3 separate regions of the Homo sapiens genome follow, and all the other regions are linked to region 1. The links come from fine-mapping of genetic effects on gene expression. A gene starts in region 1. Each other region holds a variant in brackets. All regions are shown on one strand. Distances are from middle to middle.

Region 1 (5,206 bases):
GTGCTGTCATAGCTCACTGTAGCTTCAAACTCCCAAGCTCAAGCGATCCTCCCACCTCAGCCTCCCAAAGTATGCTGGGATTACAGGTGTGAGCCATCGCACCCAGCCTATTTAAGGTCTTGAGGTCCTCCACTCCCCAGACACATTGAGGACCTGTGAACGCCCATGGGAGTTCTTGCCCCTTATGCTCTGGGGTCAAGTGGGAAGCAAGTGCGGGAGGGAGGGAGAAGAACAGGTAAAGGAGGGTCTCAAGCTTGCCTGCCTCACTGTTTGCTGGAAAGTCCCCCCCTTGAGGAGAGGAAAGGTGGACAATGTGAACAGTGGATTTGGAGCCTGAATCCCAAGGCTGCAGCTGTCTAAGATATCTTTTAAAAAACAGCCCTAAATGGAGCCCAGGAGAAACTGTGGTCTCCCCAGCAGGGGGCGCACCCCTTATCTGTTACTTCCCTTCTAGGCACCAAGTAACTATTAAATGCAGCCCATGATAGCCCTAACTTTTTGGCAGCCACTTAATATGGCTGGCTCCCACCAAGCCTGCAGCCCCCCAAACGCAGTCTTTTTTCATGCAGGCTGCCATTCTGAAAGTGTGCAGTTGTTTTCTTGGAGATAGAGAATCCCCTGTTGCCGAGAATGTCTAAGGTGTGGAGGGAATACCAGTTGATATAGGCGGCTGCTGGAGAGGGGCTTTAGGGTCCCTTTCAAAGCTAACAGTCAATGACTACATGAACACCACCGGCTAGAATAATTTTCATTGGCTGATGGCGGATGGAGTGGAAAATCAGAAAGTACAAGGGCATTCTGATTTTGGGAAGAGCCCCAGGCTGGGAGTCCAGAGGTCGGGCAGCTCAGAGTGACCTTGGGCTAGCTCTCCCTGCTCCTGAGTCCTAGGGCACCTGTGTTTGGTGCTCTTGTAGCAATTGCTCCATTATGAAGAAAGGATCCCACCCCAACTCTGCCAGAGCTTTACATGCACTTCCTCGCCACAGCCTCACCCCAACCCCTGTGAAGGAGGTCCTACCATTATCTTCATTCTGTAGATGAGGAAATTGAGGTTTAGGAAGGTTGGCATTTGCCTGAGGCCAGCCACCTGGTTTGTGGCAAGAGCCACGAGAGCATGAGAGAAAGGGAGGTGTGTGATTGTAGGGTCATGCTCTTAACCACAGCACCGCTGACACCAGAAGATTCAGGGGCGCTTGTTTTCCCTCTCCAAGCTAAAAGGGGGTGGGTGTCCTGGCCTCCTGGCCCACCAGTGGTCCCACAACACCTCTGCCCACAGCAGGGCTGGCGCTTATTTGGAGTAAGCGCTCCTCTGGACAAGGGAGCCAGGTCATCCACTGGTTGGTAATGGGGCGAGAGGACTCGGATCTTCTTAGTATACCAAGCAGGGCTCTCTGACAGGGATGTTGGGGGGCTCTGACGGCTGGGAGGGCGGTCAAATAAAAACCTCATCCCGGTGTTTTCCCTACTAGTTTTTCACGGGGAAAAGGAGTTTGTGCACATCTGACAATTTCCCACGCATGCCCTGCAGAGGCCGGCGAGATGCGGAGTCCGCGGCTGCAGGGTAGATCCCCTCCTCTGCCCAGCTCTGGGCCGAGCCCTTGGCCAGGTGGGGACCGGCGCGGATATGCCTCCGCTGGGCCTGCAGGCGGCGAGACTTACTTGGGTAGCGATAGTAGAATTCGTTCTCCATGTCGCTCAAGTTCTTGTGCGTCCTCTCTGACCACCAGTGGGCGTCGGCCTCGAAGTCGTAGCGCACGAACACCCCGAAGAGAATCACCATAATCACCTGCAGGAGCAGGCAGGTGAGCGGCAGCCGCCAGCGGAGGTTGGTGTTCCAGGCCATGCTGCAGGGGTGCCTGGCCGGGCTGGCAGCGGGCGGTTCGGACGCTCGGAGGCCGGCGGGGCTTTTGAGACCCGGGCAGGGGGGCGGGGCGGCCACGTGGGGCACGGAGCAGCTGACTCGGGCACCGCCCGCGCGCTCGCCCAACTGGCAGGGGCCCAACCCAAGCCGAGGGCCCCAAAAGATTCCCCGCGTCGGGCTGGGGGACAGCGGCAGGAGCAGAGGCTAAGGCAGTGGGCAGGAGGATCAGGGTGCCCCAAATTCTGTGTGTCCCGTTGATACTGGGGCCTTTCTCCTTTTGTTCTGCTGAACAGAGAAACACGGGGATCATTGGCCTCCCAGTGAGATCAGAAGGAATTCCCAGACCTAAGTCATCATCATCAACATCATCATCATCTGCCATCATCATCTGCATCATCATCTGTCCTTTCTTTTTCTGATTATGAAATTCATACAGGGCACATGAGAAACAAGGAATGTTTGGGACACTGTCACACAACAGAGCGGCCTGGGGAGACATCTGTGATGTGCTACCCCAGACTTGACCCTGGAACAGAAAAAGGATGTTAATTGGAAAACTGGTAAAATCCAAATAAAGCCTGAAAATTAGTTAATAGTGACGTTCCCATGTTGTTTTCTTAGTTGGGACAAATGTCATGGTTATGTAAAATGTTAACAGTAGGATAAACTGAGTAAGGGCTATATGGGGACTGTCTTTGCCACTTTTCTGTAAATCTAAAATTATTCCAAAATACAAGGGTTTTAAGAAAAAAAACACGTATAAAGGATTGTAAGAACAATTTAAGAGTTTTTCACAAGTTCATTGGTCCATAGTCAGGAACTGTCTTCTGGTTAAGATCTGTGATCTTGACATGAGTTAACCATAATATTTAGGTCTGGGAATTCCTTCTGATCTCACTGGGAGGCCAATGATCCCCATGTTTCTCTGTTCAGCAGTATAACAGTCTGTATATTGTCTGCTTAGTCTGTATATTGTCAAAATAAATTTGATTTTCTAATTTTTCTTTAAAAATACAGAGATAATTGTAGAGATTTGGAAAATACAGAAAAACACAAAGAAGAAAGTAAAAATCACTCATAATCCCACCACCCAGAGGCAATACTAATATTTTGGTGTATGTACTCTAGTCTTTTCCTAGCTCATTGAAGAGGGGCTGGAGGGGAGCAGGGGGAGTGTTTCAAACGATCATACTAATTTATAGCGTTTTTAACTCCTTTCATATTTTGTAAACACCTTCCCATATTATACTTCTACAACTTTTTTTCTTTTTCTTTTTCTTTTTTATTTATTTATTTTTTTGAGATAGGGTCTTGCTCTGATGCCCAGGCTGGAGGGCAGTGGCTTGATCATGGTTCACTGCTGCCTTGACCTCCTGGGCTCAAGTGATCCTCCCACTTCAGCCTCCCAATTAGCTGAAACCACAGGCATGTGCCACCAGGCCCACCTAATTTTTTTTTTTTTTTTTTTTTTTTTTTTGAGACAGGTCTCGCTCTGTTGCCCAGGCTGGAGTGCAGTGGGGTGATCTCGGCTCACTGCAAGCTCCGCCTCCCGGGTTCACACCATTCTCTGGCCTCAGCCTCCTGAGTAGCTGGGACTATAGGCGTGCGCCACCGCGCCCGGCTAAGTTTTTTTTTTTTGTAGAGATGGGGTCTCCCTATCTTGCCCAGGGTGGTCTTGAACTTATGGGCTCAAGTGATCCTCCCACCTCAGCCTCTCAAAATGCTGGGATTACAGGCATGAGCCACCACACCCAGCCTGCCACAACATAACTTTTATAGCAGGATATACTGTGCTTTATCTAGACAATCCCTAGTGTTAGGTGACGAGCGATGAGGTCATTTTTTATTTGTTTAGTATTACAAATCATGCTGTCATGAACATCCAGATATGTAAGTCTTTGCACAACTTTCTGTGAATTCCTGGAGGCAGAGCTGTTTCAATACATATCTCTAGATGTTCCCCTAGAAAGATTTTACGAGACAAAGCATGCACCCTGTGAGCCAGGGGTCAGTGACTTTTCCCATGCACTCTTGCCAATGCTGGCTTTAAAAAATCTTGCCAGTTGAAATCCCAGATTTGTAAAAGCCACTAATGCCATGTATAACATCTGAGGCTAAGCACCTAATCAGGGTGCTTGGAACTTGAGTGTGGCCACACTGTGCCAGCTTGGGGTACCAGGGTATCCCCACTCCCTTGGCAAAGAAGCAGCCAGACACTGCATGAGCAATACCAGCAATAGGGACCATTTATTAAGTTCCTGCGGTTGCCGGATCCTTTTGATATATATTTAAATTCTCAACTAAACACTTGTGAAGTGGACATTGTAGGTACATGCTACAGTTGAAAAACCTGAGTTCTCAGATTGGCTAAGGAACTTGCTGGAGATTCAAACCCTGGGCTGTCTGATTTCAAAGGCTGTAGTCTTTCTACTGTGCCATTCTGCTTGTCCCCTCTGGAAGGAGCGAGAAGGAGGGTTTGACTTCGTGCATGTGCATTCACTGCTGGGGAGAAAAACTTCAAGTACACGGCAATGGGAGTAAGTGGAGGGAGGGAGACAAGGGCTGGGGTGGGGGAGGCTGCTGCAAGTAGATTCATGAGCATCTAGGTTCCCCACAGGAGCAGTGGCGTTATGGGATAGAGGGCAGTGGGTGGCGTGGTCCCTGAAGCCTGGGCCGGGAGGGGGCAGGTGGAAGACCTGCTCACCAGGCTGGCCTGCTTAAAGGATAGGGAAGCCGGGGTGTCTTGCTCATTGTGAGAACTGCCCTCCCATCCAGACCTCCTCCAGAGTCCCCTAGCACACCTGTGGTGCTGGAACCCGGGACCCCCTTGGGGGACTCCTTGATGGGGCAGGGTACAGGGTCCAGGAGAGAGACGCTGACTCACAAGCCCTGCAGAGGCTCAGTGGGACAGACCTGGAGCCACAGCCAAGCACGGTCACTACCCACAGCCAGCACAAGAAGGCCGTTTGCCCTTGACCTTCATATTTGGTAGACTCAAGGTACAAACGATGGGCTTCAGACTACAAAGGGGATACAAGGTTCAAGGGAGACACTGTTATCAGATGGTTTTTTTCTTGGGTTACATTTCTGGGCCACTCAACTAATATAGGTCATCATGAATTAACATTCAAAAACAAGTCCTGGCCGGGCACAGTGGCTCACACCTGTAATCCCAGCACTTTGGGAGGCTGAGGCGGGTGGATCATTTGAGGCCAGGAGTTTGAGACCAGCCTGGCCAACATGGTGAAACCCCGTCTCTACTAAAAATACAAAAATTAGCTGGCTGTGATGGCAGGCGCCTGTAATCCAGCTACTCGGGAGGCTGAGACAGAGGAATCTCTTGAA
Region 2 (5,223 bases), 29 kb before region 1:
CATAGTTGAGGTATTACTTACCCATGGGCTCTTAAAACCTTGCAATTCTCCCTGCAACACCCCCATCTTAACCGTTCTAAAGCTTTTGGGGAAATACAGGGTAGTATAGGTTCTCAGAATAATTAATGAGGCTGTTATCTCTCTCCACCCATTGATGATGGATCTATATACCCTACTGGCTCAGGTACCAGGGGATGCAAAATGGTTCTCAGTCCTACACCTAAAAGATGCTTTCTTCTTCATTCCTCTGGTTCCAGAGTCCCAATACCCTTTTGCCTTTGAATGGGAAAATCCTAATACCAGAGAAAAACACTTGGGCAGTGCTCCCCTAAGGCTTTTGGGATAGCCCCCACTTCTTTGCCCAACCCTTAGAGAGGGATCTGAGGGGTCTGCAATTGGAGGATGGGAGTATACTCCAGTATGTGGATCACCTTCTTGTGTATAGCCCAACCCAAGAGGCTTCTGACCAAAATACTATAAAAACCTTACATTTCCCGGCTGACAGGTCATACAAAGTGTCCAAAAAGAAGGCTCAGATTACTCTCCAACAGGTCCACTGTTTAGGGTACATCTTAACACCTGGAACCTGCAAGTATCCCCAGAACGAGTGCAAGCCATATGTGGTTTGGGCCCCTCCACCCCAAGCAGCAGCTTCATTCTTTTTGGGGAATGGCCAGGTTTTGTGGAATATGAGTACCAAATTTAGGGCTCATAGCAAAGCCCCTGTATGAAGCAACAAGGAGGCCTGAAAATGAGCTAATGGAATGGACCCTGGAAATGAGAGAAGCCTGTGCCAAGCTAAAATAGGCCCTTACCCAGGCTCCAGCTCTTGGGATCCCAGACCTAACTAAGCCCTTCCCTTGTATGTAGCAGAGACGAATGGCATAGCTGTGGGAGTGCTAGTCCAGAAATTAGGATCAGAACCCAGACCAAACACCTACTTTTCAAAGAAGTTGGAGAGAGTGGCCTTGGGATGGCCAAGTTGCCTGTGGGTAACAGCAGCCATTGCTATGTTAGTGGAGGAAGCCACTAAAATCACCCTGAGCCAATCACTGGAAGTTCTAACCCCCCATCAGGTAAAGTCAGTCTTAGAGATAAAAGGACACATCTGGGTGATGGGGGAAAGGTTAACCAAATACCAGGCCGTGCTCCTAGACAATCCAGATGTAACCCTTAAAACCTGTAACACTTTGAATCCAGCTTCATTGATACCCATAGGCCCAATGACAGATCATTCCTGCGAGCCAGTCATTGCACATGCATATGTTAGCTGGCCTAATTTAAAAGATCAGCCTCTCCCAGATTCTGAGGACTTGTTCACAGATGGCAGTTCTGTGTCAAATGGGGAACACTGAGCTGTGTATGCAATAGTCAATCACAACACCCTTATCGAAGCCCAGCCACTGCCCCTTGGCACATCAGCACAAAAGGCTGAAATCATTGCTCTTACCCGAGCATTAATTTTGGGACAAAATAAAAAGCTTAACATCTATACAGATTCTAAATATGGCATTCCTTGTGGTTCACGCTTATGCTGCAATCTAGAAAGAAAGGGGACTACTAGCTAGCAAACCCTCCCCCATAAAGCATGGGCCTGAAATTCTTCAGCTATTGTAAACAATACACCTGCCACAGGCCATAGCTATAATCCATTGTAGGGGGCATCAAAGGGACTTAACTCCTATAGCACAAGGGAACAGAAAGGTTGATAGAGAAGCCAAAGCCACATCCCTCAGGGTGCAATCCCAACAGATCCTAGCACTGATTCCTTTCTATGATTCCCAGTGGATCCCAAATACACACTACAGGAAGAACAGTTAATAAAGGAGCAAGTGGGGCAAAAAAAAAAAAAAAAAAAAAAAGATCCTGGTGGTATATGAGATCAAAAATACATCTGCCTCAAACAGCCCAATGGAGAATTATAAAAACCCTGGATGACTCCTTCCATATGGGGAGAGATGCCACCCTGGCCATGGTTAACAGGCTCTTCATTGGGCCTAACTTAACTTCGGTGGTTAAGCAGGCCTGTCAAGCCTGCTCACTGTGTGCACTTAACCCAGGAAACAAAATGCCTCCTCTAATAGAACCAGACCAGAGGAGAGGAACTTACCCAGGGGAAGACTGGTAATTAGACTTCACCCATATGCCAGCTTGCAGAGGATACAAGTTTTTGTGAGTGCTAATAGATATCTTTACTGGTTGGGTCAAAGCTTACCCTACCAGAACAGAGAAGGCTAATGAGGCTATAAAGTTTCCCTTAAAAGAAATAATCCCCCGGTCTGGGTTACCTCAGAGCCTCCAAAGTGATAATGGCTCATCTTTTATCTCCCAAATAACTCAAGGGGTTGCTAAGGCTCTTGGAATCAAATACTATTTACATTCAGCATGGAGGCCTCAATCCTCCAGGAAAGTAGAAATGGCTAACCAAACTCTAAAATGAGTGTTAGCTAAACTATGTCAGGAAACATCAAAAACTTGGGTCAGCTTACTGCCTATAGCCCTCTTAAGGATCCGTAATACCCCTAGAGCAAAAATTAATATAACCCCCTATGAAATGTTATATGGAAGGCCATTCTTAACTAGTGATTTAATTACTGATCCAGAAACAGCCAGTTTAGCAAGATACCTAGTTAACTTAAGACAATTTCAGCAGGCTTTACAAAAGTTTGGAACTCAAAGGCCCCACCATACCGGGAACTAACCAGCAACCCAAAATCAGGCTAAGGGATAAGGTACTTGTTAAAACATAGAAGGAGGGATCACCTGCTCAACAATTGCAACCCCAATGGAAGGGACCGTTTTTAGTGGTACTGGCTATGCCTTCTATGGTCAAGGTACTAGGATTAGATAGTTGGATACATCTTTCAAGGATCAAGTCTGTGATACCTGAAGCC[A/C]GGGACCAGGAGCCTGAAGTTTCCATCAGACAGTCAAAAGACAAGTAAATGCCTACCAACTTTCCTTGGTGTTTTTGTTGCATAGTTACTGTAGGCTGGATAATAGCAGCCATGTTCTCAGATTTCTTGCAGTTTAGGTGCTTTCTTTCAAACGATTGGAATCACTTCCTTTGTAGTGACTAAGCAGACTGTTGTAATTCATTCCTATAACAAACATTCCTGACAGCATAGGTATCCACCCCCTGAAGTTCCCATTAAATCTTTTAACCAAATTCATTTCCTCTCACCTAGAGACCATCAAGTTTCAGATGATCCTGTGACAAGGTTTCCAGCCTGTTCCAAATGAAGGCAGCACCCCTGGCCATCAAGAAACTACCCAGTCTCCACTCGATAGATAAAGGCAGGAGTTCGGGGATCCCCAATAGGTAGGGACTGCACCTCAAGTCAGGGTGACGCAGTTACAGAAGAAAGACCATCAGTCACTCTGTCTCCCATAAAGATTTCTGGGGATCATGTCTCTCGGGGGAAATGAGGCAGGAGAATAGGGTCTGGAGGCAGGGAACCTAAGTTCGATGCATGCTGACTGGATATCAGAGGCTACTCCCTTTCAACCCCTCCTTTTTCTGCATGGCAGTTGCTGCCTGGCAGTTGGAAATGAAAGTACCTCGGATTGGTTCCCTCCCGCAACCAATCAGACTGGTTGCGGGCCACTACTTTATGTGCATAGAGTGAACAGATGGGAAACCCCTGGAGGGTATTTAAACCCCAGAAAATCCTGTAGCCCAGGCTCTTGAGCCTCTTGCTCGAGCCCGCTCCCACCCTGTGGAGTGTACTTTCGTTTAAAATAAATCTCTGCTTTTGCTGCCTTGCTTTGTGCATTTGGTCTAATTCTTTGTTCAAAATGCCAAGAACTTGGACAACTATCCTCAACTGGTAACAGACGCGGTGGGCATAGGCTCTTAGTGTAGCCTGCACATTGCACAGGAGGGAGTTGGAAGCCAGCGCTGGCCCCCTCCCCTCCCTGTGCAGCCCCCAGGACCCAGGTCATGTGATCAGGAGGAGGGGTGAGCCCCAGAGCCCTAAAAGCCTGGCTCTGGGTTGGGCCCAATACTGTTGGCCTGGTGGTGCCTGGGATTGGGGTGGGAGGGGTGGGAGGTGGGCTTCAGGAACCACCCCCCCAGCACCCCTTCGCACCCCGCCCCCCACGCCACCCTGCACCCTCTCACGCTGCGGGCCCCTCCCAGGCCCTTCATAGGCATATGGGGCTGGGCCAAGCGGCTCTGCTGGGGGAGGGAGGCTGGGGCTCAGATCAGCTGAAATCAAAGCCACAGCTCCCTCCCCGCCACGCCGCACCCCTGCCGAGCGCCGCGCACCTTCTCCTTTGTCACAATGTTTTTCAATCCGGTGAAGCAAACTGTCCAATTAGAGCCAGGGTCTCCGGCTTCCATCTTTGCCGACGTTTAATTAACATGCTCCTCTTGGCAGCTGCTGACAAGTTCCAGAAACAGGTTGTAAAGGGTTTTTGTCTTTACCCAGCATGGAAAATGAGGGGTGTTACATCGCGGGTACATGAATAGGTTGCATTTCAGATCCCTCCTTCCCCTCCCCCCTGCACTGGTAAGAGGCATGCAGCGGTGTGTGTGTGTGTGTGTGTGTGTGTGTGTGTGTGTGTGTGTGTGTGTGTGTGTGAATTGCAAGGGGGCGGGGAGGGCGGAGTTGGAAGCTGAGAGACCTCCTCCCTTTTCCCTCACCCCTTCTTCCCAGGAGCCTTTGCTCCACAAAAGATCCGGATTCCAAGTCTTATTCTCCAACTGGCACACTTCTGCCTCACATCTCTTCTAGCCAGTAGCAGACTTCACCGTGTTAATTCCTACCCATGGGTCTGTGCCCATGCTGTTTCTTTGCCATCCTTCTGGTAAACTCCTATTCAGCCTCCAGAACCCTGCTCAGGTGGCCCTGCTTTGAGAAGCCAACTGGGTACAGACTTCCTGTCCAGCCACACCTGTCAGAGTTCAGCATGGATTCTGAGGGTCAGGTCTGTCTCCCAGCTAGACTGTGAGCCCCTGAGGGCAGGAAGGTGTATTACTCTGCCCAGGGTGGTGGTGAGCCTGGGAGATCTACCCTCCTGAAACCTTACCCCACTGTCCAGGGAAAAGAAGGCTGGCTTGGCAGAGAGAAAGAAGGGAAGGGATGGGGAGGAGGAGATGGGCCCAAAGGAGCCCTCCCTCCCTTCTCGCAGTCCTGCTGGAGTGCCCAGAGCAGGACCACATGGAGGGCACAACAGAGATGCCAGCTTTCTCAAGGGCTGAGTTTCTGGAGTAGCTGATGG
Region 3 (5,223 bases), 57 kb before region 1:
TCCATGGGAATACAAATAATCATAGTTACCATTAATTGAGTAACTACTCAGTGTTAGGTCCTGTGCCAGGTACTTTATATCTATTCCGTGATATCAACCCTTTAGAATAGGTGTTACTGTTGCTTTTTACTTTGCACAGGGAACTGAAACACAGAGAAGTCCAATGACTTGTCCAAGGTCACACGGCTAGAAGGCAGAAGAGCAAGGATTCAGCCTGGGTTGGCTCAACTCTCACCTGTGTTTTTGTTGTTGTTGTTGTTATTTTGTTTGTTTGTTTTGAGACATAGTCACATAGTCTCACTCACCTCCTCCTCTCCTCTCCTTAAGCCTTTAAGCATTGGCATGCTAAGTCATATGACATCTAGTCTCATTCTGTCGTCCAGGTTGGAGTGCAGTGGCACAATCTCGGCTCACTGCAACCTCTGCCTCCCAGGTTCAAGCCATTCTCCTGCCTTAGCCTCCCAAGTAGCTGGGACTATAGACACACACCACCACGCCTGGCTAATTTTTTTGTATTTTTGTATTTTTTGCTATGTATTTTGCTATGTACTTTTCACTGTGTTGGTCAGGCTGGTCTTGAACTCCTGACCTCAAGTGATCTGCCTGCCTCAGCTTCCCAAAATGCTGTGATTACAGGCGTGAGTCACTGTGCCGGGCCCAACTCTGAGCATTCATGAGATCTGCTGGAGTCATTAGCTCTAGCTCCGTCCTGCTCAGGACTCACTGGTCACTGACTTCCCCAGAGCCTGCTTGAGGTCCCACAGGGGCCTCTGTGTTATACCAGACTGTCCTCTGTCAGCCCAGACCTGAGGCCACATCATACACCTAGATCCTGCCTGAGATGAGACCACCAGTTCAACCAGGCAGCCTGTCCTGCTTGCTCAGGCCCCGCACATGAGGGCAGAGGACAATCTTGGGAGAGCAGGGTCAGGGAGGAAAGCCTTGGAGCATCTCCTCTTCCCATCTGTCTGCCCACCCAGGAGCCCTCCCTCTGAGATTTCATATGAATTCAGCATCCACAGAAGCTCAGGGTAGCGGTGAGAGTGCAGCCACAGCTGTGGGGATGAGGCCAGAAAAGAGGCAGCAAGAGACACTCCAACCCCTCACTGCCCCTTGGAGCACAAGGAGACCTGTCAGATATGGGAGGGCAATGGGCTACCCCCTCTGGAAGAGGCGCTAAGCTTGGGCCTCTTGCCAGCTCTAGAGAGGGGCTGACTCCGGCTGAGCCAGGTCGGTGTAGACCAGAATGTCTGCAGGAGGCTGCTCAGTCCAGCAACTAGGTTCTTGCCGTTCACATGGCTTCCCTGCACTCGTGGGTCACAGGTCCTCTTGGTGTGGGAGCAGTAAGGGATCCAGGTGGCAGGGAGACCCTGGTGCTGGTCGGCTGAGCACCCCAGACTAAATGTGTGCCAACACTAGGACCTGAGGGGAGAAAAGAAATGGGTCCACTTGACAGATGAGGAAACTGAAACCCAGACTGGGGAAGACAGTTTTGTGAGTTCACACAGTAGATGACACACAGTCCTGGCTCTTGGAGGGTAGGATTCTGGGAGGACCACCAGGGGATCCCCTCCTCATCCCATACTGGCTCACCAGCCCAAGAGTGCTCAGAGCTTGGAGGACTGCTATCGGGAAGCCGGGCAACTCCTTCCCAGAACAGGGCTTGGGTCCAGAGGGAGTGCTCACGGGGGTCCTGCCTGCAGCACCAGAGCTAGCCCATATGGCATCTCCATTTGAGTTGGAAAAGAGGACCCCTCTCCCTATCACTTTACCTCCCTTTGCTGGATGGTAAACACCCCAGCCTTTCTTTTTTCTTTTTTTTTGACAGAGTCTCCCTCTGTCACCCAGGCTGGAGTGCAGTGGCACGATCTCGGCTCACTGAAACCTCCACCTCTCAGGTTCAAGCGATTCTCTTGCCTCAGCCTCCCAAGTAGCTGGGATTACAGGCACCCACCACCATGCCCGGCTAATTTTTTTGTATTTTTAGTGGAGTCGGGGTTTCACTATGTTGGTCAGGCTGGTCTTGAACTCCTGACCTCAAGCAATCCACCCACCTCGGCCTCACAAAGTGCTGGGATTATAGGCATGAGCCACCGCCCCAGCCCACACCCAGACTTTCTGATCCAGTGCCTGAGGGCACCCCACTCACCTGGCCCCTCTCCATGCCCCTCTCTTCCCTCTGCCATCACCTCTCTCTACAGCCCCTCTTCCTTCTCTATCTACCCTCTTGTTCTCTGAGCTCAGCTGTGCCATGTCCCCAGTGCCCCCAGAAGTCCCAGCTTTCCAGAGGGGCTTGCACAGGCCTCTTGAAGCTGGCCTCCGTCTGCCTCCGCTTGCCCCAGCAGACCCACGTTAGCACCTGCCGTGCCTTTGGGCAAGACACCATCCCTCCTTCCTTGCCTGGACTGCTCCTGAGCATGCATCCGGTCTTAGTGGTCCCTTCTTTTAGGACGCCTTTGCGCCTTTGTGGCCCCATTGGCTGACTTAGCTGCCCCTCTGCGAGGCTTCTCCTTGGGTGGGCCTGCATGTTGCATGCTGACACTCTGGTTGTGGCTTCCCCAGGGGACACAAGGCTTCCAGAGCAAGGGAGTCTATGTCTCTCACCCAGCTGCATCTCTATGCCTAGACCCAGAATAAAAATCGCTACTATTTAATGAATATAATGAATGTTTCCTATGTACCAGACAATGTGCAGAACATGTTATATACCATGCCTCAGTGACTCTTCACAATGAC[C/T]TCTTATATTCTATTACTAATAATAAGTACTAACAATAATACATGCTATCATTAAGCCCCTTCTACAGGTAAAGAAACTTGAGTCCCAGAAAAGTTTCCTGTTCAGGAGTATGCTTGAATCTTCTGTGACATGTACTGTCTCTGGGAAAATGAGAATTGAATGAACTGGTGAATAAACTGCAAGGATCTTCAGAGATGGGCAGGGAGAAACTGGGCTGCTTCTCTCACCAGAGGGTGGCATCGGGTCCCTGATCCCAGCAGGGACTGTGTCCCAGCCCAAAGGGCTCCAGAACCTTCCGAGACTAGCTCTGGGTCCAAGCCTCAGGTATGAGATGTATGAGCCTCATTCTGTGAGTTCTGGGCCCGCCTCTGTAAAATGGGCATTGCAATCCTGCCCTGGCTACCTGCATGCTGGTTTCAGGGGCTCAGGCCCAATCCTGAATGTCAACATGCTTGAAAATGGTAAGCCGGGTGCAGTGACTCAATCCTGTAATCTCAGCACTTTGGGAGGCTGAAGTGGAAGGATCCCTTGTGCCCAGGAGTTTGTGACCTGCCTGGGCAACATAGCGAGACTCCGTCTCTAAAATAATTTTTTACACCACTTTGGGAGGCTGAGGCAGGCAGATCACTTGAGGTCAGGAGTTCGAGACTAGCCTGACCAATGTGGTAAAACCCTGTCTCTACTGAAAATACAAAAATTAGCAGGTGTGGCGGCAGGTGCCTGTAATCTCAGCTACTCGGGAGGTTGAGGCAGGATAATCACTTGAACCCAGGAGGCGGAAGTTGCAGTGAGCCGAGATCGCACCATTGCACTCCAGCCTGGGCAACGAGAGCGAAACTCTGTCTCAAAAAAATAAATAAATGAATAAATAAATTTTAAATATTAGCCAGGTGTGGTGGTGCACACCTATAGCCCCAACTACCTGGGAGGCTGAGGCAGGGGGAATCGCTTGAGCCCAGGAGCTGGAGGTTGCCGTGAGCCAGGCTGGTAGCTGTCCACTGTGCCATGAGCTCAGAGGGGAGTGAGAGGGTGGCAGGTCACCAGAAGCTAGAAAGCTGCCCCCTGAGGCAATGCAGCTAGAGCTGCACAGGCTCTGTCCACCTGCTGTGTCAGGGAGGAGGGAGGGGAGGAAGAGGGAGGGCACAGCTGGGGCAGTGGGCACAAAGCCAGCACCAGGTCAGGCAGGCCCAGTGGGCAGATCAGGGTCAGTGGCCTGGGTGAGGTCTAGGGCACCCAGATGCCCATGCTCTTCCCAAGGCCACTGTGGCTTCCCACTAATCCTGGGCATAGGGAGGGGTGGAGCCAGGAGGGCGGAGCAAACCTTACAGCCTGAGGGGAGCACCTGTGGGTGGGGCTTGGGAGAGGAACTGAGAGAGGAACTGAGGCCGCACAGGAAGGAGCCGGTCAGTGAAGCAAGGCTGAGTGTTCACTTATTCAACAACCTTTATTGAGCCCCTTTATTGAGCATGATGATCCAGGCATCATGATATACAGCTCTAAACAAAACACATGACCATCCCTGCCTCACAGAGCTGACATTCTGGTGGAGGAGGTGGGCAATAAACAAGATAAATAAGTACATCATAGAGATGAGCTGAAGGTGAGGAATAAAGCAGGAAGGTGAACAGGGTGTGCTGGGGCCGCCATTGCAAATGGGCCAGGGAAGGCCTCATTAAGAGGGTGACATTTGAGCAAAGGCATGAAGCCAACCATGATCCCGACCCACCTATTCATGCTTTTGAGTCAAGTTCGGATGTCAGCTCTGAGACTGCAGGGGTATTGGTTGTTTTCACTGGTGGATCCCAAGCACTCGGGTAGGGCCTGGTGCCTGGTTCAATACATATTTGTGGATATGATAGAAATGAAAAAAGGAGTCAAGCATTTGGCATCCAGTCATTGCCGGGGCTGGTGCTGGGGTTCTCCTGGTGAGGATTCCAGCCCCCACCCTCCTGGGACAATGCCTGAAAGCCACTGACCCTACTGGAAAAGCAGAAAGGGGCGGGGGGCAGTAGGCCAGCTCCAGGGCGGGGAAGTTTGCTGTGTACAGGCAAGACGATGTCGTCTTGCTTGGGTTCCTGGGTCTCACAGGGTCTGTGGTATGTGGTGCCGTGCGGTCAGAGACCATGGTGGTGGCTGGGACCCTCTAATGTGCTTCTGGAGCCAGGTTTCAGTGGCTTACACGGGGCAGCTGAGGGTGCTCTGTGTCAGCGGGGGTAGCGGCAGGGGCTCTAGGTTCTGGTTGCCGCCTGCCACCCCCTGGGAAGGTAGTAGGTGGTGGCTGGGTTGCCTGGGAGTCACCTGCCCCCCTTCATGACTGGGTCCTGATGCCATCCTAAGTCTCTGTGGGGTGGGGGTGCTGTGGCAGCTTGCCGGGGTGTCTACCTGGGAGATATGAGACTCTAGGTCCTAGGCCTCATGAGGCCCTTTGCAGGAGAGCACCCTGGAACAGGGAGCGTCAGTTTCTGCATGTGTCAGATACCAACCTG

Which allele goes with the higher level. Positions count from the first base shown, and alleles are read on the strand shown. Sizes are in standard deviations (SD) of each study's normalised expression.
For the expression in prefrontal cortex of the gene that starts at base 1,882 in region 1, allele A in region 2 goes with a lower level than allele C (small effect, 0.35 SD a copy in BrainSeq).
With allele C in place of T in region 3, the expression in anterior cingulate cortex of the gene that starts at base 1,882 in region 1 is lower (moderate effect, 0.49 SD a copy in GTEx).

What was found. PIP is the estimated chance that this variant, and not a neighbour inherited with it, causes the effect.
Region 2: its variant is the best candidate, but not a certain one, in a credible set for the expression of RHCG in prefrontal cortex (BrainSeq, PIP 0.88).
Region 3: its variant is the best candidate, but not a certain one, in a credible set for the expression of RHCG in anterior cingulate cortex (GTEx, PIP 0.58).

Annotation. Positions count from the first base shown.
Region 1 is chr15:89,494,702-89,499,907 of GRCh38, forward strand. It overlaps RHCG (Rh family C glycoprotein), which reads right to left and starts at 1,882. Exons shown (of 11, transcript NM_016321.3): 1 at 1,660-1,882. The coding sequence starts at 1,843.
Region 2 is chr15:89,465,969-89,471,191 of GRCh38, forward strand. LOC105370964 (a long non-coding RNA gene) reads right to left here and starts at 3,304. Exons shown (of 3, transcript XR_932600.4): 1 at 3,182-3,304. It overlaps LOC112268153 (a long non-coding RNA gene), which reads left to right. Exons shown (of 2, transcript XR_002957725.2): 2 at 3,186-3,763. The variant A/C (reference allele first, on the strand shown) is at 2,895.
Region 3 is chr15:89,437,509-89,442,731 of GRCh38, forward strand. No RefSeq gene overlaps it. Among named protein-coding and RNA genes, the nearest start is that of RHCG, 56 kb to the right of the region's middle. RefSeq lists enhancers at 3,428-4,107, 4,108-4,787, 4,253-4,402. The variant C/T (reference allele first, on the strand shown) is at 2,737.